4 linked regions of the Homo sapiens genome follow. The protein of the gene in region 1 interacts with the protein of each later gene in a pairwise test. Each region holds a gene or a part of one and is shown in the gene's direction. Other genes may lie near its edges.

The links. Proteins that work in one complex are often made in the same cells at the same time.
Region 2: the proteins of FAM161B (region 1) and SH3BP5L interact in binary tests that used the Homo sapiens proteins (3 or more experiments, as listed by UniProt).
Region 3: the proteins of FAM161B (region 1) and ANKRD23 interact in binary tests that used the Homo sapiens proteins (3 or more experiments, as listed by UniProt).
Region 4: the proteins of FAM161B (region 1) and TSNAXIP1 interact in binary tests that used the Homo sapiens proteins (3 or more experiments, as listed by UniProt).

Annotation. Positions count from the first base shown.
Region 1 is NC_000014.9:73,935,763-73,940,392, reverse strand, and holds part of FAM161B (protein FAM161B), read left to right. Parts: intron 1-2,280; coding exon 2,281-2,445; intron 2,446-2,691; coding exon 2,692-2,791; intron 2,792-4,304; coding exon 4,305-4,444; intron 4,445-4,630.
Region 2 is NC_000001.11:248,815,469-248,820,098, reverse strand, and holds part of SH3BP5L (SH3 domain-binding protein 5-like), read left to right. Parts: intron 1-3,214; coding exon 3,215-3,277; intron 3,278-3,436; coding exon 3,437-3,565; intron 3,566-4,630. UniProt on the Homo sapiens protein: Functions as a guanine nucleotide exchange factor (GEF) for RAB11A.
Region 3 is NC_000002.12:96,840,775-96,845,914, reverse strand, and holds the start of ANKRD23 (ankyrin repeat domain-containing protein 23), read left to right. Parts: upstream 1-1,893; 5' UTR 1,894-1,922; coding exon 1,923-1,949; intron 1,950-3,403; coding exon 3,404-3,550; intron 3,551-3,729; coding exon 3,730-3,855; intron 3,856-5,002; coding exon 5,003-5,128; intron 5,129-5,140. UniProt on the Homo sapiens protein: May be involved in the energy metabolism. Could be a molecular link between myofibrillar stretch-induced signaling pathways and muscle gene expression.
Region 4 is NC_000016.10:67,809,206-67,813,835, forward strand, and holds part of TSNAXIP1 (translin-associated factor X-interacting protein 1), read left to right. Parts: intron 1-4,630. UniProt on the Homo sapiens protein: Possible role in spermatogenesis.

The DNA of each region.
Region 1 (4,630 bases):
AGCATGCTAGCAGGTGGCTGAAGTTGCCGCAAATATGAGACATCCATTGCATAGATTTGAGATTCTCTGAGATTCATCTTGGGAAGATGTCAGAGTCTGTTGGGCAGCAAGAGCCTGCTTATTTTTAACTCTTCAACTGACCTGATTCTGTTATGATGTTCTCATTAAGCCAGCCCCCAGCAAGGGTTCTTCCACCAGGCTTCTGAGCTGAAGTAGGCAAGAGAGGTCATGGTGTAACAGCAGCTTAGGCCAGGGAGAGGACTAATGTCTTACTGCCTTCCCATGGGGCATGTAGGGGAGTACTCAGAACCTACTTGGATCGTTAAGCCCCACAGCAGGGATTGTAGAAGAGTATTTACGGTCCAAGGGATACTCCTTTCTTCTTCAGACTTCAGTTAGACCTACTAAATCAGGGCTAATTAATTGCTCAGTATCCTGAGGGCCCAAGAACACAGGCCTCCTGAACAAAGAGGCTGGCCTTCCTATAGAGGACATCCACATCTGCTTTCCAGCCACAGGGAATCTGACATATTAACAGATTAAATTTTCATGTCCTTCTTCCCAGTATGTCCATTTGAATATAAACATCCAAATATAAGAGTCTTGGTTGATTTTCCTTTTGGAAGAACTCAACATATTACTTTGTAGATAACTGAACAAACTAAGTGCTACAAGTTGAACCCAAATAGTCTGCACTGAGGGAGGCTCATTTCCAGTTCTCTCTGAATGTGCAGATTTGTATTCCCAAAGGACCATGAACCCAGACACCTTCCAGCCCACTGTTTCCAGCAGAGTGGTCAAGGCCAGAGGCTTCGGAGTCAGAGGTCCTGGTCCAATAGGGGCTTTTCCACTGGCATGCTGGGTAGCTTTGAGCAAGGGGCTTACCTCCTTTGAGCCTCAATCACCTCCCCTATAAAAAGGGAATTTAGTATTTACCTCATAAGGCAGTTATGAGGACAATGTGAAATGTAATGGTACTTGGTTCATAATAAGGAGCTCAGTAAATGGTAGCTATTAGTATTATTTTGTATCCAGATAGGCGAAGACCTATTGAATGTTGGACTGTTTAAGTAAGGATATATATATTTTTTTTCGAGACAGAGTCTTGCTCTGTCGCCCATGCTGGAGTGCAATGGCGCAATCTCAGCTCACTGCAACCTCTGCCTCCCGGGTTTAGTGATTCTCCTGCCTCAGCCTCCCAAGTAGCTGGGATTACCGGCACGTGCCACTACACCCAGCTAATTTTTTTTGTAGTTTTGGTAGAGACAGGGTTTCACCATGTTGACCAGGCTGGTCTCGAACTCCTGACCTTGTGATCAGCCCGCCTCAGCCTCCCAAAGTGCTGAGATTACAGCCATGAGCCACCGTGCCCGACCTAAGTAAGGATATTTTAACTGACGTTTCTCCAGTTCAGTAAATGCACTTCTAGGGTAGGAACTCACTGTGTCCCTAGTGCTGGAAAGGCTTCATCTGCCAGTGCATTTAATCCTAGAATTTTATTATTTTTAAAAATGGCAGTTGAGGTAAATTACATGCCCCATTCATTAAAAACACCAACTTACTTTCCAGAAAAGGTTACTAAGATTGCTTTATTTTATTTATTTATTTATTATTATTTTTTGAGACGGAGTCTCTCACTGTCGCCCAGGCTGGAGTGCAGTGGCACGATCTCGGCTCACTGCAAGCTCCGCCTCCCAGGTTCATGCCATTCTCCTGCCTCAGCCTCCCGAGTAGCTGGGACTACAGGCGCCCACCACCGCACCCGGCTAATTTTTTGTATTTTTAGTAGAGATGGGGTTTCACAGTGTTAGCCAGGATAGTCTCGATCTCCTGACCTTGTGATCCGCCCGCCTCGGCCTCCCAAAGTGCTGGGATTACAGGCATGAGCCACCATGCCCGGCTATTTTATTTTATTTTATTATTATTATTATTTTTGAGACGGAATTTGATCTGTCGCCCAGGCTGGAGTGCAGCAGTGCGATCTTGGCTTATTGCAACCTCTGCCTCCCGGGTTCAAGCGATTCTCTTGCCTCAGCCTCCCGAGTAGTTGGGATTACAGGTGCACACCACCATGCCCAGCTAATTTTTGTATTTTTAGTAGAGCTGGGGTTTCACCGTATTGGCCAGGCTGGTCTTGGACTCCTGACCTCAGGTGATCCACCTGCCTTGGCCTCCCAAAGTGCTAGGACTACAAGTGTGAGCCACCACACCTGGCCTAAGATTGCTTTTCAGTATACCCAGGTTGGTAATCTATACTCTTTTTCTGCCTCCTTCCTTTAGAAGTGCACTTGAAAAAAAGAACAAAGCAGATGAGAGTATTCAGTGGCTGGAGATACACAAAAAGAAGTCTCAAGCAATGTCCAAATCTGTGACCTTGCGTGCAAAAGCCATGGATCCCCATAAAAGCCTGGAGGAAGTGTTCAAAGCAAAGCTGAAAGAGAACCGGTCAGTGTCCTCTATGTGTCAAAAGGGGTGCTTGCCTTGGGATCCAACAGACCACTGGCCTATTGCCAGAAAATGCAAAATAGAGTTATCGAGGTAGGTAGGCTCCTGTAATCACAGCAGGGTCATGATTTTCCAAGTCAGATAGGAATTTACAGTGTACACGAGAGTTACACTGCTTTACTGGAAATGAAGGGTATTCTGGATTAGAAAAGATGAAATTCTTTCTAAAAGTCTTGCTAATTCCAGGAACAATGACCGTAAAAGAGCGAAAGAATATAAGAAAGAACTGGAGGAAATGAAGCAGCGAATACAAACAAGGCCCTATCTCTTTGAACAAGTTGCCAAGGTAAAACTAAACCATCATTTGTTTTCTTTCTGCCTTAGATAAAAGGACTCTGAAAAATTACAAAACAATTTTAATATGTGGGTATTAAAATTTTCCTTGAGGCCCAGAAATTCTAATTTCACTACTACCTTCTTTTCCCAAAATAAATAGTACAATAGAGAATGCTGCTTGTGTTGATTTCATCCAAGAGTGGACTCCAAAGGCATCGATAAAGGGATATTTCACTTCCTAGAGCTTTCACTGTAGTCTACCATTCAGATTTCATCAGACTGGGCATTAGACCCCAGAGACACAGGGACCATTTGGCTCTTTCTATGCTCTGGAGCCACTGTTCACAGTGCTGGAAAGGTATCTCTCCTCTGGCAGTGCTGCTGGCCCTGGGCCTCCCCAGCCTCTAGAGCTGTGGTATATTTATAGGTCTCCAAGCATTAGGATGCCCACAAACACCCTGCAAGGCTTTCTCTAGACTAAGTGGCTTTCAGGCTGGAAGCCTGAAATTTTTTTTTCTTCTTTTATTTTGTATGCATGTGTATGTGTGTGTGAGTGTGTGTTCCTTATGGAGCAGGGCTAACCCATAGGCAGTGTACCCGAAGTATCCTGGAAGAGTATCATTTTAAGATATTCTCTGTAGACTTTTAGGGATGTTGGACTCAGCTGAGATCTCCGTAAGGATGTAAGGATGCTCTGTTTCTACTGCATTAGGCTCTGTGGATCTCTTTCCTCTCCAGTTTCAGACAAGTTGGGGTTCCATAGTGACCTAGTTCCAATGGCAGGGCATTAGCTCCATCTTATAGTTAGTACATTGTCTAGGCATTTGCTGGCTCCACTTCCTCCTCCCTCCATAAATCTTTCTCCTCTCACACACATAAGCACACATGGTCTTGGATTTACTTAGCAACCTGCATTGTTCAAAATCTCATGCTTCTTTATGTTAATGTTAAGCAAGCTCACTCTTCAGATCTCAACAGATCTTTCACCTCTCTAGGAAAAATACAAAGTACTCTATGATTTTGTTCTTGAATACTTAAACAAAAAATAATATTCTGCTGGTCCACATGCAGACCATCTGTCCTTCCACTAAGAGTCTTGGTGTAGCTTATTTTCTATTTTATTTTAGTGTTCCTGATAATGGTTTGTTGCTTTAAAATCTTAGGTTTTTAGTCCATCCTTTTAAATCTGGGTCTCATTTGTCTCCCAAAAGTCTAAGTCATTGCTTTTCAAAATTGTGACTCCCAAATCAACAGTTTGGCATCTCTGGGGAGTGTTAGAAATACAGAATTACAGTCCTCATCTGACACCTACCAAATGTGAAATCTGCATTTTAACAAGACCTCAGGTGATTTATATACACATTAAGGCTGGAAAACAAGGGTTAAATAATTTTCTTGCAAATCTATGCCCCACAATAAGGGTGGTGGTGGTTGTGGCAGTATTGTAACAATACTGATTAAGTAATTTAGAATTGTCTGGTAATTCATAAGACAGCTACAACAGATTAATTTCCATCCCACAGGATCTAGCCAAGAAAGAAGCAGAACAGTGGTATCTAGACACCCTGAAGCAGGCTGGGCTGGAGGAAGACTTTGTGAGAAACAAGGGTCAAGGCACCCGGGCTGTTCAAGAGAAAGAGACCAAAATCAAGGATTTTCCCAGGTAACCTGAAATGTTGCTGTCATTCTGCAGCTCTCTAAATTGTCATACCCAGTAATACCACTGGGAGGAAACTTTAGAATAGCCACTGGTATTTTGAGATCATAATCCTGTATTTATGTAACATTAATAAGTAATCCAGAGATCTCCAAGTAACACATTTGAATTTAGAGAGTGATGCAGTTGTGA
Region 2 (4,630 bases), on another chromosome or scaffold:
GAGATGTGTCACAAGAGTCAAGTGCATACGGATTGTGAAGACTTAGTTTAAAAAAGTAAAAGTATGGATAATAATATTATTTTATGTTGATCACATGTTGAAATATATTTTGTATATATTGGGTTAAATGTATTTTTATAATTTCACTCTTTTTTTAAATTTTTTTACTTTTAAAAAATGTGGCTTCTAGAATTAAAAATTCCATGTGCAGCTCCTGTTACGTTTCTGTTGAATAAGTCTCTTCGAGAAAATTTAGAGCAAGCTTTTCCAACCCGTGGCCTGTGGGCCGCATGCAGCCCAGGATGGCTTTGAACACGGCCCAATGCAAATTTGTAAACTTTTCTTAAAACATTATGAGATTTTTTTTTGTGATTTTTTTTTTTTTTTTTTTTTTTTGAGACTGAGTCTTGCTCCTTCACCCAGGCTGGAGTGCAGTGGCACAATCTCAGACCACTGCAACTTCCGCCTCCCAGATTCAGGTGATTCTCCTGCCTCAGCCGTCCCAGTAGCTGGGACTACAGGTGTGTGCCACCATACCCAGCTATTTTTTTGTATTTTAGTAGAGATGGGCTTTGCATCATGTTGCCCAGGCTGTTCTCAAACTCCTGAGCTCAGGCAATCTTCCCACCTCGGCCTCCTGAAGTGCTAGGATTACAGGTGTGAGCCACTGCGCCTGCCCACGATTTTTTTTTTTTTTTTTAAGCTCATCAGCTGTAGTTAGTGTTAGTGTATTTTATGTGTGGCCCAGGACAGTTCTTCTTCCAGTGTGTCCCAGGGAAGCAAAAAGATTGGACATCCCTAGTTTAGAGCCAGATTTGTGGCCCTCCTTAGGCAGGGTCTACACTGTTGTAGGTAGGTGTGTGCATTTTCATATCCTCATTCCTCGTTCCATTACAGGTTTCTACCTTTGTGTTCTTCCTGTTACTGTAATTAACATGTCAAACCATTTCCTGTATTCTTACCTGCTGACCCAGATCTTTTCAGGATCAAGGCAGGGGATGGGGGGAGGATAGAAGAGGTAGAAGGGACTAAAAGGAAGATTGTGCATGTCAGCCTGACTCCCTCACTGGGTTGCTGAAAGGCCCGAATGAGGTGAGTGGGGGCCAACATCACGGCCATATGAGTGGGAAGTGATTGTGGTGTCACTGCCAAGTGCAAGTCATGGGTCTGGGCAGCAGGCACATGCTGGGCTGGGTCTCTCTGGCCTGTCCAGCCTCCTGTCCAGAGACAGCAGGGGCTGGTGAAGGCAAATCCTATAGCTAGGCACCAGGTATTTCCTGGCACAAGGCCCTTGGCACAGACCAGCACTGCTCCTCAGTAGTGTCCTTAGCTCACCAGGGGCTCTGGGAACTTTTGTGTTTTCTCGGGCAAGGGAGGATGACTTGAGGCCAGTACCCCTCTCAGCTCTCTTCCATTTCATGGAAAGCCCTGGATGGTTCTATTGCTTCTCTCTCCAGTCCTTCCAGGGGCCAGGAAGGCACTCAAACCAGCTTGTCCAGCAACTTTTCCCCAGGACTCTCCCTCCCTCCCACAGGATCTGCTCTATAGGGACCTGCGGTCATGGTCACCCATTGCCCAAGCAGGCCAAAAGGCTTCTTGGACTCTATACACTTTCCTGATCTTGACCTTAGTCATCCACCAAGCCCCTGTGATTCTGTGTCCTGCGTTGCCTTGGGATCTGCCCTCTCCTCTGCCACCTGGAATACTATAGACAGCCTCCACCTTTTTTTTTTTGTTTGTTTTTTGTTTTTGTGATGGAGTCTCACTGTGTCGCCTAGGCTGGAGTGCAGTGGCACGATCTGGGCTTACTGCAATCCCTGCCCCCCGGGTTCAAGCCATTTTCGTGCCTCGGCCTCCCAAGTAGCTGGGATTATAGATGTGTGCCACCACGCCCAGCTAATTTTTGTGTTTTTGCTAGAGACAGGGCTTCACCATGTTGGCCAGGCCGGTCTTGAACTCCTGGCCTCAAGTGATCTGCCCACCTCTGCCTCCCAAAGTGCTGGGATTACAGGTGTGAGCCACCATGCCTGTCCCAGCCTCCACTTTTGTCTCCCTGGCTCCCCCAGGCTTTCGTTACATTGGCACCAGGCTCTGAGAGACCCTTTTGCCATTGCAGAAAGTCCTGGTACTACCTCCCATAGTGCTGTAGCCTTACTGACCTTCTCACCTGCCAACTTGTCTGCCCAGGGTACCTGCTCCCCTTTGGTTCCTTGGCCCTTTGTTCTTCACTGGCACTTTATTTTTTTGAGACAGAGTCTCGCTATGTTGCCCAGGCTGGAGTGCAGTAGTGTGATCTTGGCTCACTGCAGCCTCTGCCTCCCAGGTTCAAGTGATTCTCCTGCCTCAGCCTCCCAAGTAGCTGGGACTATAGGTGCACGCTGCCACACCCGGCTAATTTTTGTATTTCTAGTAGAGACAGGGTTTCACCATGTTGCCCAGGCTGGTCTCAAACTCCTGACCTCAGGTGATCTGCCTGCCTCGGCCTCCCAAAGTGCTGGGATTACAGGCGTGAGCCACCTTGCCTAGTCATTCACTGGCACTTTTGTGTCTATGAAGTCCTTCCAGCTGCTGAGCAAGTGTTCCAGGCATCCTACCCTGACCTTCTGCTGCCCAATTAGGTGACCTTGCTACCCAGAGAGCACCCACACCCACCCCTCACAAGGCTGCACATACTGCCCAGGACCTGCTGCTGACTTGCTGGGTTTCCTTACAGGCTGCCACCTCTATGTCCTGAATTCTCAGGTCTCACGGTCCTGAGAGGTGATAAGTGTGCAGTAAACATGTGCTGACTGAGTGGCCCTGCCCTGGCCCAGGTGGCCATCCTCTCGCAGAGAGCGAGCCTTCAGGTCCAAGGAGACTCCCTCAGTTTGAGGAAGTGTTGCAATCTCACGGAGAGAGTGAGGGCTCACCACAACTTCACGTTGTGCATATTAGTGTTGCATTCTCCAAACCTCAATTTCTTCATCCTTGAAACTGGGGTTTTACTACCCAATACAAGGTAGAGTTGTGAGGATTACGTGAGATTGTATGTATCAGGTCCCTGATAGACAAGAAAGCTTTTGGCAATCTCCGTATCTTCTTTCCTTTCCTGAGTGTCTCACCTCATTTCCCTGGGCAAGTGGGGCTCTCTCTCTCTGTGTTGCTCCTGCCTTGCATGGTTCATTCAAGGCTACTTCCTTCCACTGCACTAATTTGCCACCCCTCTCTGTGGCAGGAGGAGTTGGAGCACCTGAACCAGGCCAGCGAGGAGATCAACCAGGTGGAACTACAGCTGGATGTGAGTGTCCTTTTCCTTATGTGCTTGGGCTGGTCCTTGGAAGTATCTCCATCTGTCTCTTTCCCAGATTGAGGCAGTGGCGGTGGGAGGGGTGTGTCTGAGAAACAAGAGGGGCTGGGACCCAAACATGTGCCTTTCCTCTGCCTTGTTCCTTTCCAGGAGGCCAGGACCACCTATCGGAGGATCCTACAGGAGTCGGCGAGGAAACTGAATACACAGGGTTCCCACTTGGGGAGCTGCATCGAGAAAGCCCGGCCCTACTATGAGGCTCGGCGGCTGGCTAAGGAGGTATGGCTGGCTGACCACGTTTGAGGAAGGCTACGTGCTGAGCCTGGCCCTGGATTCTTCTGTCTCTATATGGAGTGAGAGACAAAACACCAGACCCTGAGGGCAGAGCCCTGGGCTAGACCTGGCTGGTCGGAACCAGCTCTGTGGGCTCAGGAGGTTCCTTTACCACGTGGGCTCTGGGCTTATGGTCTATAAAATGGTGAGGGTGGCTGTGGGAGAATATTTAGTTCAGCCCTGCTAATGTTTAAGTGCCTTCTGTGTATCAGGAATCAGGCTTTAGGGTATATCAGATATGTCAGTTCTAACATCCTGTTGTTTTCATCTGCGCCCATTTCCTCTTCCCTTTGGTTCATGTCTCTCTTCTGAATCTTTTCTTTGCTTACTCCTCACTCTTTTCCCCATCCCACACCCCTTTTTTCTGTAACAAATTACTTTTAACAAATAATATGTGTTCACCATTGGAAAAACATAATAAAACAAGAAGGAAACAAAAATCACCCAAAATCCTACCATGCACGTTTCATGCATTTTGTTTCCTGGGATTTGTTGTCATCCTGTATGGTGAGGTGACAGATACAGACAACTGCCTTGGAAGAAGAGTTTGTTCCCGAGAGGAGGGGACATCCATGCCATGCAGGGCCACACGGGGAAGCAGCCAGGGTCCTTCAGGAGGCAGAAGTGAAGGAGAAAGCAAAGCGCAGCGCCTTAGTGTGGTTTTCGTGGAAAGGAGTAGGTGAGGCAGGGTAGGCAAGTTTGGATAAGTTTAGGAGTGGATAGTTGGAATAACTTTGCTAGGCCCTGGGCTATAGGGGCGGCCTCTAATTGTCTAGTACCTGGCCCTGGGATGACTTAGGGCAGAGGAAATATCGGCTTGGTCGGGGAGAAGTAGGTAAAGGAGTTAGCTGGGGATCCAGGCTTTGGATTAGGTGGTTGGTTTGCATATGAAAGGCACACTTACAGGGGAGTTTACTGTTTCTAGGAATTAGCCCTGGAAGGGGCAGTTTGTCCTTGGCCAGCAAGGTCCCCCAAGACATGAAAGCATCATAAAGTATAGAAAATAAAAAT
Region 3 (5,140 bases), on another chromosome or scaffold:
CTGGTCTCGAACTCTTGACCTCAGGTGATCTGCCCACCTCAGCCTCCCAAAGTACTGGGATTACAGGTGTGAGCCACCACGCCCGGCCCCTTTGCCCTCATTTTAGATGACTCTTTCCCTCCTCATAACCAAAAGCAAGGAACAGGCTGGGTGTCACCTGAGGTCAGGAGTTTGAGACCAGCTTGACCAACATGGAGAAGCCCCATCTCTACTAAAAATACAAAATTAGCCAGGGTGATGGCACGTGCCTGTAACCCCAGCTACTCGGGAGGCTGAGGCAGGAGAATCACTTGAACCGGGGAGGTGGAGGTTGCGGTGAGCCAAGATCGCGCCATTGCACTCCAGCCTGGGCACCAAGAGTGAAACTCCATCTCAAAAAGAAAAAAAAAAAAAAAAGCAAGGAACACCTTTGTCTGAAAAAAGCACCCTAAATTTAGCCTAAGAACTAAGTTTTCAGCTGGGCGCGATAGCACAAGCCTGTAATCCCAGCACTCTGGGAGGCTGAGGCGGGTGAATCACAAGGTCAGGAGTTCAGGACCAGCCTGGCCAACATGGTGAAACACCGTCTCTACTAAAAATATAAAAAATTAGCTGGGCATAGTGGCAGGTGCCTGTAATCCCAGCTACTCGGGAGGCTGAGGCAGGAGAATTGCTTGAACCCGGGAGGTGGAGGTTGCAGTGAGCTGAGATCGCGCCACTGCACTCTAGCCCAGGCCACAGAGCGAGATTCCGTCTCAAAAAATTAAAAAAAAAAAGAAAACTTTTTTTTTTTTTTTTTTTTAGACGGAGTCTCACTGTTGCCGGGCCAAGAACTGAGTTTTCTAAGAAAGCTCTGCCTTTTCCTGAGTTCTCTGAAAATGTGGAAGCCCTTCCAAGAGGCCAGTTCTTTGGGAGCTGGGGAGCCATCTGGGGCCTGTGGCCATCCTTGGCCACAGTTCTCCCTCCTTGTACCCTGGTCATGTCTTCTCAGGTTGCTCCGATTTTGGGGTCTTATTTACTGGCTGATTTCCTTGCAAAGGCCAAGGCGGAGTTCAAGGTTCAGCTGGGTGAAGGGCATGCCTGGCTTCCTGAGAATTAGGAAGGGTGACTGATGGCTTGAGACACATTGCTCTGCGGCTGGATTTCATGGTTACTATTCCATCCCGGGACCTGACGCGGATCAGTCTCCCCTTTCCTGTGGCTGGAGGGGCACACTCCGTCCCTGGAGAGCGTCTGGTAGGGGCTTGTAGAGGGGCGGGGAGGACTTCCAGAGGCCCGAGGACAGGCGCCAGGCTTGGCTTCGGGGCTGGGGCAGCTGCCATGTGCTCTCAGAGCACTGAGGGAGGAGCGGGGGAGCCCGGGGGCGAGAAACCCACAGCACAGGGAAGGGAAGGGCAGCCTTGAAACTGCAAGTTGGGAGATCACGGTTTCCTCACGTGGCCACCATGAGGGCTGAGGCTGTAGGCTGGCCGCTCCTGCCCCTCCCGACCACCCCCTCAGGCTTCCAGCCTCCTTGCTCAGCCACCTAGGCTGGGCTTTCAGGTTCACAGGCAGCCGGCCCTACAACATGGAGGCCCAGGCTGGGCTTTCTTCAGGAGTGGCATCTAAACTTAGGAGAGGGGAACACGTTTCACCCGAATCTGGGCTAGCAGTGTGTTGGTTAAATGGCCCCTGAGTAGGTGTGGGGCATGGCAGAGGTGCAGGAGTGGGTGTCCGAGGATGCAGCCAACTCATCTCCAAACAGCTCCTTTTCTTTTCCCCAGTGGGCTGCATTCCCAGACTGGTATTTTAGTTGGTGTGACAGAGTCCCAGAGTCATCTGGCCCAGGGGCTTGCACCTGCGCCAGTCCTTCCCTGTCCACCCCTGCCCGTCTCCAGGCGCTCCTATAAAGGGCTGAGCAGTTCAGCTCTTCTCACTGGGGGGTGTGAGGAACAGGGGGGACCATGGACTTCATCAGCATTCAGCAGTTGGTAAGGATGTGGGACGGAGGTGGGAGGCACCCTGGGACCGGCTTGATAGGAGGAGGCTGGCTAGAGAGGGCTGGCAGCTTCTTTCTGTGGTGTGAGGGTCAAGTCTTAGGTGCAGGGAAGCATGCAGTTCTTTTATAAAAATCTGTATTTTTTGAAACGGAGTCTTGCTGTGTTGCCCAGCCTGGCCTTGAAGTCCCACGCTCAAGTGATCCTCCCACCTGGGCCTCCCAAGTAGCTGGGACTCCAGGCGTGTACCCCCACACCCGGCTGAGCGTGCGGTTCTTTCTGGTGTGTCTGCTCGGTTCTCATGTGAGGTGGTGAGGGGGTTAGGGAGCAAGAGAGGGAAGTCGAATGGGAAAGAAGACATGAAAATCCTTGAGTTCAGTGAGTTTTGCCCTGGATAGTGATGGTGAAAGAGGAACAGGAAATGGCAGGTTACTTTGGAAGATGCAAGTGTGGCTGTGGTGGTTGTAGTTCAGCTTAAGCACCATGATAGTTGTTGCTCTGGAAATGGCCAGAGGTCCTGGCTGCCTTGGGGATAGGGAAGGGTGCTCTTTCGCTCCCTGGGCAGTGAGGGAAACAGTGACTCTTAGGGATGTCGGTTTGAGTGACGAGGGGCCTGGAGGGTGTGAGGCCCAGCAAGCCCATCTGTGGGCTGCTGGCCCCAGCCTGGTGCAGCCTCTGGCGGGAGGCAAATGGCAGGGAGGTGTTAGGTTGCTAGAGTTCTTTAGAAGGAATATGGTTCTACCTGACTAGAAAGTCCTAGGATCTGTTACCCTATCATTCCACCCTGTTCTTTCCCCACAACAGGCTGATTCCTCAGTGCTCCCCAGCTCCTGAACTCCTGAGGTGGGGCCCGGTGGGAGGAAGCATGGGTGTTTGCTACGGAGGCTTTGCCCCAGGCACAGGTCCCAATAACTCATAACCTTCACAACTCCTTTAGGCAATTGCCTTAAGTGTTTGAGCTTAAATGTAGCTTCAAAAGGAGCCGAGAACTGAACCCAGGCATTTAGAATTTTACCCCGGGGGGACTTCTCTGTCCCTCTGAGCTTGGAGTCAGGTGGCAGTCAGTATGATCTGGTAGGAATCTTAACAACATGGGGGAAGCTAAGGTGTCATCTGCCCTGAGGCTACCTGGGCAAATGCCCAGCAGTATAAATAGGTTGTGGCCTCATGTCCCCCCAGCTGTGTTCCTGCTGACAGGAGCAGGGTAGGCGGGGATCCGTTGTCCCCCTGGGTGTCAGCTGATGACACAGTTGCGGAGCCTGCAGCACCCACAGGGTGAGGGAGCTTGCCAGCACTCTGGACTGCAGGAGCTTTGAGGCCGGCTCCCATCCCGGGCACCAGCCTTGTGACATCTGCCCTTATAAGACAGCTCCCTGCTACTCCACAGCTCTGTTTTCTAAGGGTTCCTCCAATTTTCCCAACTCAGTACTCATATCCTGTTCCTACAGGTAAGTGGAGAAAGAGTTGAAGGGAAAGTGTTGGGATTTGGACATGGAGTTCCTGACCCTGGAGCCTGGCCTAGTGACTGGAGGAGGGGCCCCCAAGAGGCTGTGGCCCGGGAGAAGCTGAAATTGGAAGAAGAGAAGAAGAAGAAAGTGAGAGAGGGGCGGGGGCCGGGGTTGGGGGCAGTGGCTAATCCCTGAGGCCGGCTGAGCAGTGAGGCCTGGAGGGACTCTGGTGGGGCAGCCTGAGCAGCTGGTGTCTCCTGTCGGCAGGGCAGAGAGATCTCTTGACCAGCGGCTGATGGCTGGCATGGTCTTGTCTTCTGCCCCAGCTTGAAAGATTTAACAGTACCAGATTTAATCTGGATAACCTGGCTGACTTGGAAAACTTGGTTCAAAGACGGAAAAAGCGACTGAGACACAGAGTCCCCCCCAGGAAACCTGAGCCCCTGGTTAAGGTGAGTGGGAGGTCGGGGTTAGGGCAGTGCACACACCAGGGCTCCAGTTCCAGAGGAAGGGCTTGGGGCAGAGTGGGCACTGCAGGCCAGGACCACACAGCCAGTGCCTGGGGAGCCCATTAAATCCACTCCAGAGCCCCCGCGGATGTGTCCGCCAGGGCTGCCATAACAAAGTCCCACAGCCTGGACAGCCTCAACAGCAGGCATGTGTCACCTCGCTGTCCTGGGGGCTGGAAGGCTAACAGGAAGGTGTTGGCGAGGCTGGTTCCCTCTGAGGGTGGTGAGGGAGAATCCCTTCATGCCTCTCCGGCTTCTGGTGGATGCTGGTGATCTTTGGCGTTCCTTGGCTTGTAGATGTATCACCCAACTATTGCCTTCATGTTTGCTGGGCGTTCTGCCTGTGTGCATGCCTGTGTCCATGTGTCTCCCCCAACTTTTTTTTTTTTTTTTTTTTTTTTTTTGAGACGGAGTCTCGCTCTGTTGCCCAGGCTGGAGAGCAGTGGCACGATCTCGGATTACTGCAAGCTCTGCCTCCCGGGTTCATGCCATTCTCCTGCCTCAGCCTCCCGAGTAGCTGGGACCACAGGCACCCGCCACCACGCCCGGCTAATTTTTTTTTGTATTTTTAGTAGAGATGGGGTTTCACCGTGTTAGCCAGGATGGTCTCAATCTCCTGTCCTTGTGGTCTGCCCGCCTCAGCCTCCCAAAGTGCTGGGATTACAGGCATGAGCCACCGCATCCGGCCCACGTGTCCCCTTTCATAAGGACATCAGTCACATTGGATTAGAGCCCACTTTAACACAAGTCATATTGGTGAGGGGCCCACCATACGCCGGTGTGACCTCATCTTAACTAATTACATCCTCAGTGACTCTGTTTCCAAATAAGGTCACATTCTGAGGTACCTGGGGTTAGTACTTCATACGAATCTTGGGGAGATACAAGTCAATCCATAACACACACGCTCACACACACACAGTCTATTCAATCTCCTGGCGTGGGATTAGAATAAGAAACTGCATTAGTACGAGCCAGCAGTGTTCCTTGGTGGGCTGCATGGGACCCGTGGGCCAGACTGGTGAAGCTGTGACATCTTGGGCACCTGCGGCCTTCGGGAGTGATTTGGTCTTGTCTTCAACTGAACCAGCCGCAGTCCCAGGCCCAGGTGGAGCCTGTGGGCCTGGAGATGTTCCTGAAGGCAGCTGCTGAGAACCAGGAGTACCTGATTGACAAGTACTTGACAGACGGAGGGGACCCCAATGCCCATGACAAGGTAGCACAGGTT
Region 4 (4,630 bases), on another chromosome or scaffold:
ACGCCTGTAATCCCAGCACTTTGGGAGGCCAAGGTGCGCGGATCACGGGGTCAAAAGATCGAGACAATCCTGGCCAACATGGTAAAACCTTGTCTCTACTAAAAATACAAAAATTAGCCAGGTGTGGTGGCTTGCACCTGTAGTCCCAACTACTCGGGAGGCTGAGGCAGGAGAACCCAGGAGGTGGAGGTTGCAGTGAGCCCAGATCATGCCACTGCACTCCAGCCTGGCAGCAGAGTGAGACTCCATCTCAAAAAAAGAAAGAAAATCAGCCAGGCATGGTGACCTGTGCCTGTAATCCCAGCTATTCTGGAGGCTGAGGCACAAGAATTGCTTGAACCCAGGAGGAGGAGGTTGCAGTGAGCTGAGATCTTGCCACTGCATTCCAGCTGCCTGGGAGACACAGCAAGACTCCGTCTCAAAAAAAAATAAATAAATAAATAAATAAATAATACAGGCCGGGAGCAGTGAGTGGCTCATGCTTGTAATCCCAACACTTTAGGAGTCTGAGGTGGGTACATCATTTGGGGTCAGGAGTTCAAGACCAGCCTGGCCAACATAGTGAAACCCCATCTCTACTAAAAATACAAAAACTAGCCAGGCGGTAGTGGCATGCACCTGTAATCCCAGCTACTCAGGAGGCTGAAGCAGGAGAATCGCTTGAACCTGGGAGGCGGAGGTTGCAGTGAGCCGAGATCGGGCCACTGCACTCCAGTCCGGGCAAGAGAGTGAGACCCTGTCTCAAAAAATAGTAAATAAATAAAATTTAAAAAAAAATACAACATCATTAATCTACCATATTCCTTATTCACCAGCATTTAGTGATGTTGGGCCAGACTCACTGTTTCTCTTAGAGACACTGTGGATGTCCTCATCCTTTCCCTTTAAAAAGGGGCAGCATGATGGATAAGCTAGACCTTAGCACTGTGGAACATGTCATCAGGACCCTCTGCAAGGGACCTTCGAATTGTGCATTTTCCTGGGGCAGGTTTCTCCTCCCTATCGGCTTTTCTCCTTTCACCCTCATAACCCTGGCACTTGGTGGATGGAACTCAGCAGCTTGCGTTCACTGAATACCAAGATATAACCCTGACAAACCCACTGCCTACTACCACTTAAATAACTGAGCTTGAGGCCGGGTACGGTGGCTCACGTCTGTAATCCCAGCACTTTGGGAGGCCAAGGTGGGCAGATCATGAGGTCAGGAGTTCGAGACCAGCCTGACCAACACGGTGAAACCCCATCTCTACTAAAAATACAAAAATTAGCCGGGCTTGGTGGTGCTCACCTGCAATCCCAGCTACTTGGGAGGCAGAGGCAGGAGGATCACTTGAGCCCGGGAGGCAGAGGTTGCAGTGAGCCGAGGTCATGCTACTACACTCCTGCCTGGGCGACAGAGCCAGATTACGTCTTAAAAAAATAAAAATAAAAGTAAATAAATAACTGAGTTTGGTCCAGCTTTGAGGTAGAAATATAAATGTTTCCCATTCCCCTCTGAGGGTTACCATAAAATATTTAATATAAAACATCTTAAACTTTTTTTTTTTTTTGAGATGGAGTGTCTCACTCTATTGCCCAGGCTGGAGTGCAGTGGCATGATCTCAGCTCGCTGCAACCTCTGCCTCCCGGGTTCAAGCGATTCTCCTGCCCCAGCCTCCCTAGTAGCTGGGACTATAGGCGCGTGCCACCACACCTGGCTAATTTTTTGTATTTTTAGTAGACAGGGTTTCACCGTGTTAGCCAGGATGGTCTCGATCTCCTGACCTCATGTCTTTTGTTTTTTTTTTTTCCTTTTTCTGGAGAACGGGGTCTCGCTATATTGCCCAGGCAGGTCTCGAACTCCTGGGCTCAAGCTATCCTCCCGCCTCTTAGCCTCCCTGAGAGCTGGGATTACAGGCGTGAGCCACCGCGCCCGGCCGATCTCCTGACCTCATGATCTGCTCACCTCGGCCTCCCAAAGTGCTGGGATTACAGGTGTGAGCCATCACGCCCAAGCCCAAGCTTTTTGGATAAGTGTACAGGCCCTAGCAGGTGTTTGGTTTGCCTTGTTTTAAGTCTGTTTTATAATGTTGTCTCCTTTGATATTCAAAACTAACAACATCTGTTACCTACTGAACTTTTCCATTCAACAGCTTCTCAGAATTTATAGAATTCCCCAATTTTCTTGCTTACCTTGCCTTTCCTGGTGCTTCCAGCATGAGCAAGAACAGAGTTTGGAGAATTGATTAGTCTTTTTTTTTTTTTTTTTTTTTTTGAGACAGAGTCTCTCTGTGTTGCCCAAGCTGTAGTGCAGTGGCTCCATCTCGGCTCACTGCAACCTCCCACTCCCAGGTTCAAGAGATTCTCCTGCCTCAGCCTCCCGAGTAGCTGGGACTACAGGTGCCCGCCACCACACCCGGCTAATTTTTGTATTTTTTTAGTAGAGACAGGGTTTCACTATGTTGGCCAGGCTGGTCTTGAACTCCTGACCTCGTGATTTGCCCACCTCTCCCTCCCAAAGTGCTGGGATTACAGGCTTGAGCCACTGCACGGCGAATAATATATTAGTCTTGATAAGAAGGTATTGATTTAACCCAGTGAGCACTTGGGGTTGATCTGTTGTATCTTGTTGGTCTCCAAGACTGTCTCACACCCAAGCTCATCTGGGCAGACACTCTTCCTTCTCCTCACCGACTGCTTAATCCATATGTTTTGCTCACACTTGTCCAATGTTGAGAAGCAATAGAGGACTAGGGTTTGGAATATTACTGCTCCATGGACTATAGCTGAGCAGCATTACAGGGCAGAGTTTCTCAACTGGGTTCACATTAGGGCTCTCAACTTCCCTGGAGTTTGGGTAGTCCTAATCCTACTTTTATAAGCAAAGACACTGAGGTTCAGAGATGTTAAGCGGCATGCCCAAAATCACCAGCAAGCAAGAGGAGTGAACACAAGATCTATCTGGCAACATAAATCACACACCCCCACCCCATGGATTGTTGGAATTACTTCTTCCTTTTGTTCCACCTGAGCCTGCCTGCCCACAGTAGCCCTTCCTGTTGGTCCCCAAATGCCTTCCTAGGATGGCTGTTCTAAGAGGCTTTTCCTGTTCTACTGTCATAATGAACATCTATGCAGTTCATTGCAGTTTACATGGTATTTTGCATATCTCATTTTTTTTTATTTATTTAAAAAAAAATAGGCCGGGCACGGTGGCTCACACCCGTAATCCCAGCACTTTGGAAGGCTGAGGCGGGCAGATCACGAGGTCAGGAGATCGAGACCATCCTGGCCAACATGGTGAAACTCTATCTCTACTAAAAATACAAAAATTAGCCAGGCACGGTAGCGTGCACCTGTAGTCCCAGCTACTCAGGAGGCTGAGGCAAGAGAATTGCTTGAACCTGGGAGTCGGAGGCTGCAGTGAGCCGAGATCATGCCATTGCACTCCAGCCTGGGCAACAGAGTCAGACTCTGTCTCAAGAAAAAAAAAAAAATTGGCTAGGTACAGTGGCTCACGCCTGTAATCCCAGCACTTTGGGAGGCTGAGGCAGGCAGATCACCTGAGGTCAGGAGTTTGAAACCAGAAATAAATAAATAAATAAAAATAGAGGCAAAGTCTCACTATGTTGCTCAGGCTCATCTCGAACTCCTGGGCTCAAGCGATCTGCCCGCCTTGGCTTCCCAAAGTGCTGGGATTACAGGCATGAGCTACCACGCCCAGATGCACATCTAATTTTTTTTGTTTTGCTTTCAGACAGAGTTTTACTCTGTCACCCAGGCTGGAGTGCAGTGGTGCAATCTCGGCTCACTGCAACCTCCGCCTCCCAGATTCAAGTGATTCTTCTGCCTCAGCCTCCTGAGTAGCTGGAATTAGAGGCACCCGCCACCACACTCAGCTCATTCTTATTTAAACTTCAGGCCGGTCGCGGTGGCTTACGCCTGTAATCCCAGCAGTTTGGGAGGTGGACGTGGGTGGATCATTTGAGGTCAGGTGTTCAAGACCAGCCTGGCCAACATGGTGAAATCCCATCTCTACTAAAAATACAAAAATTAGCTGGGCATGGTGGCAGGGGCCTGTAGTCCCAGCTACTCAGGAAGCTGAGGAAGGAGAATTGCTTGAACCCAGGAGGTGAAGGTTGCAGTGAGCTGAGATGGCGCCACTGCACTCTACCCTGGGTGACAGAGTGAGACTGCATCTCAAAATAAATAAATAAATAAAATAAACTTCATAACTTTGTAAGATAGGCAAAGCAAGAGTTGTCCCTGGCCAGGCACAGTGGCTCACGCCTGTAATCCCAGCATTTTGGGAGGCCAAGGCAGGTGGATCATGAGGTCAGGAATTCAAGACCAGCCTGGCCAACATGGTGAAACCCCGTCTCTACTGAAAATACAAAAATTATCCATGCGTGGTGGCAGGTGCCTGTAATCCCAGCTACTCGGGATGCTGAGGCAGAGAATTGCTTGAACCCGCGAGATGGAGGTTGCAGTGAGCCAAGATCGCACCACTGCACTCCAGCCTGGGTGACAGGGTAAGACTCCGTCTCAAAAAAAAAAAAAAAAAAAAAAAAGAGTTGTCTCCACTTCTTTGTGAAGAAACCAGGCTGAGAAATATTAAATGACTTGCTCAAGGGTGGTCCTATTAGAACCC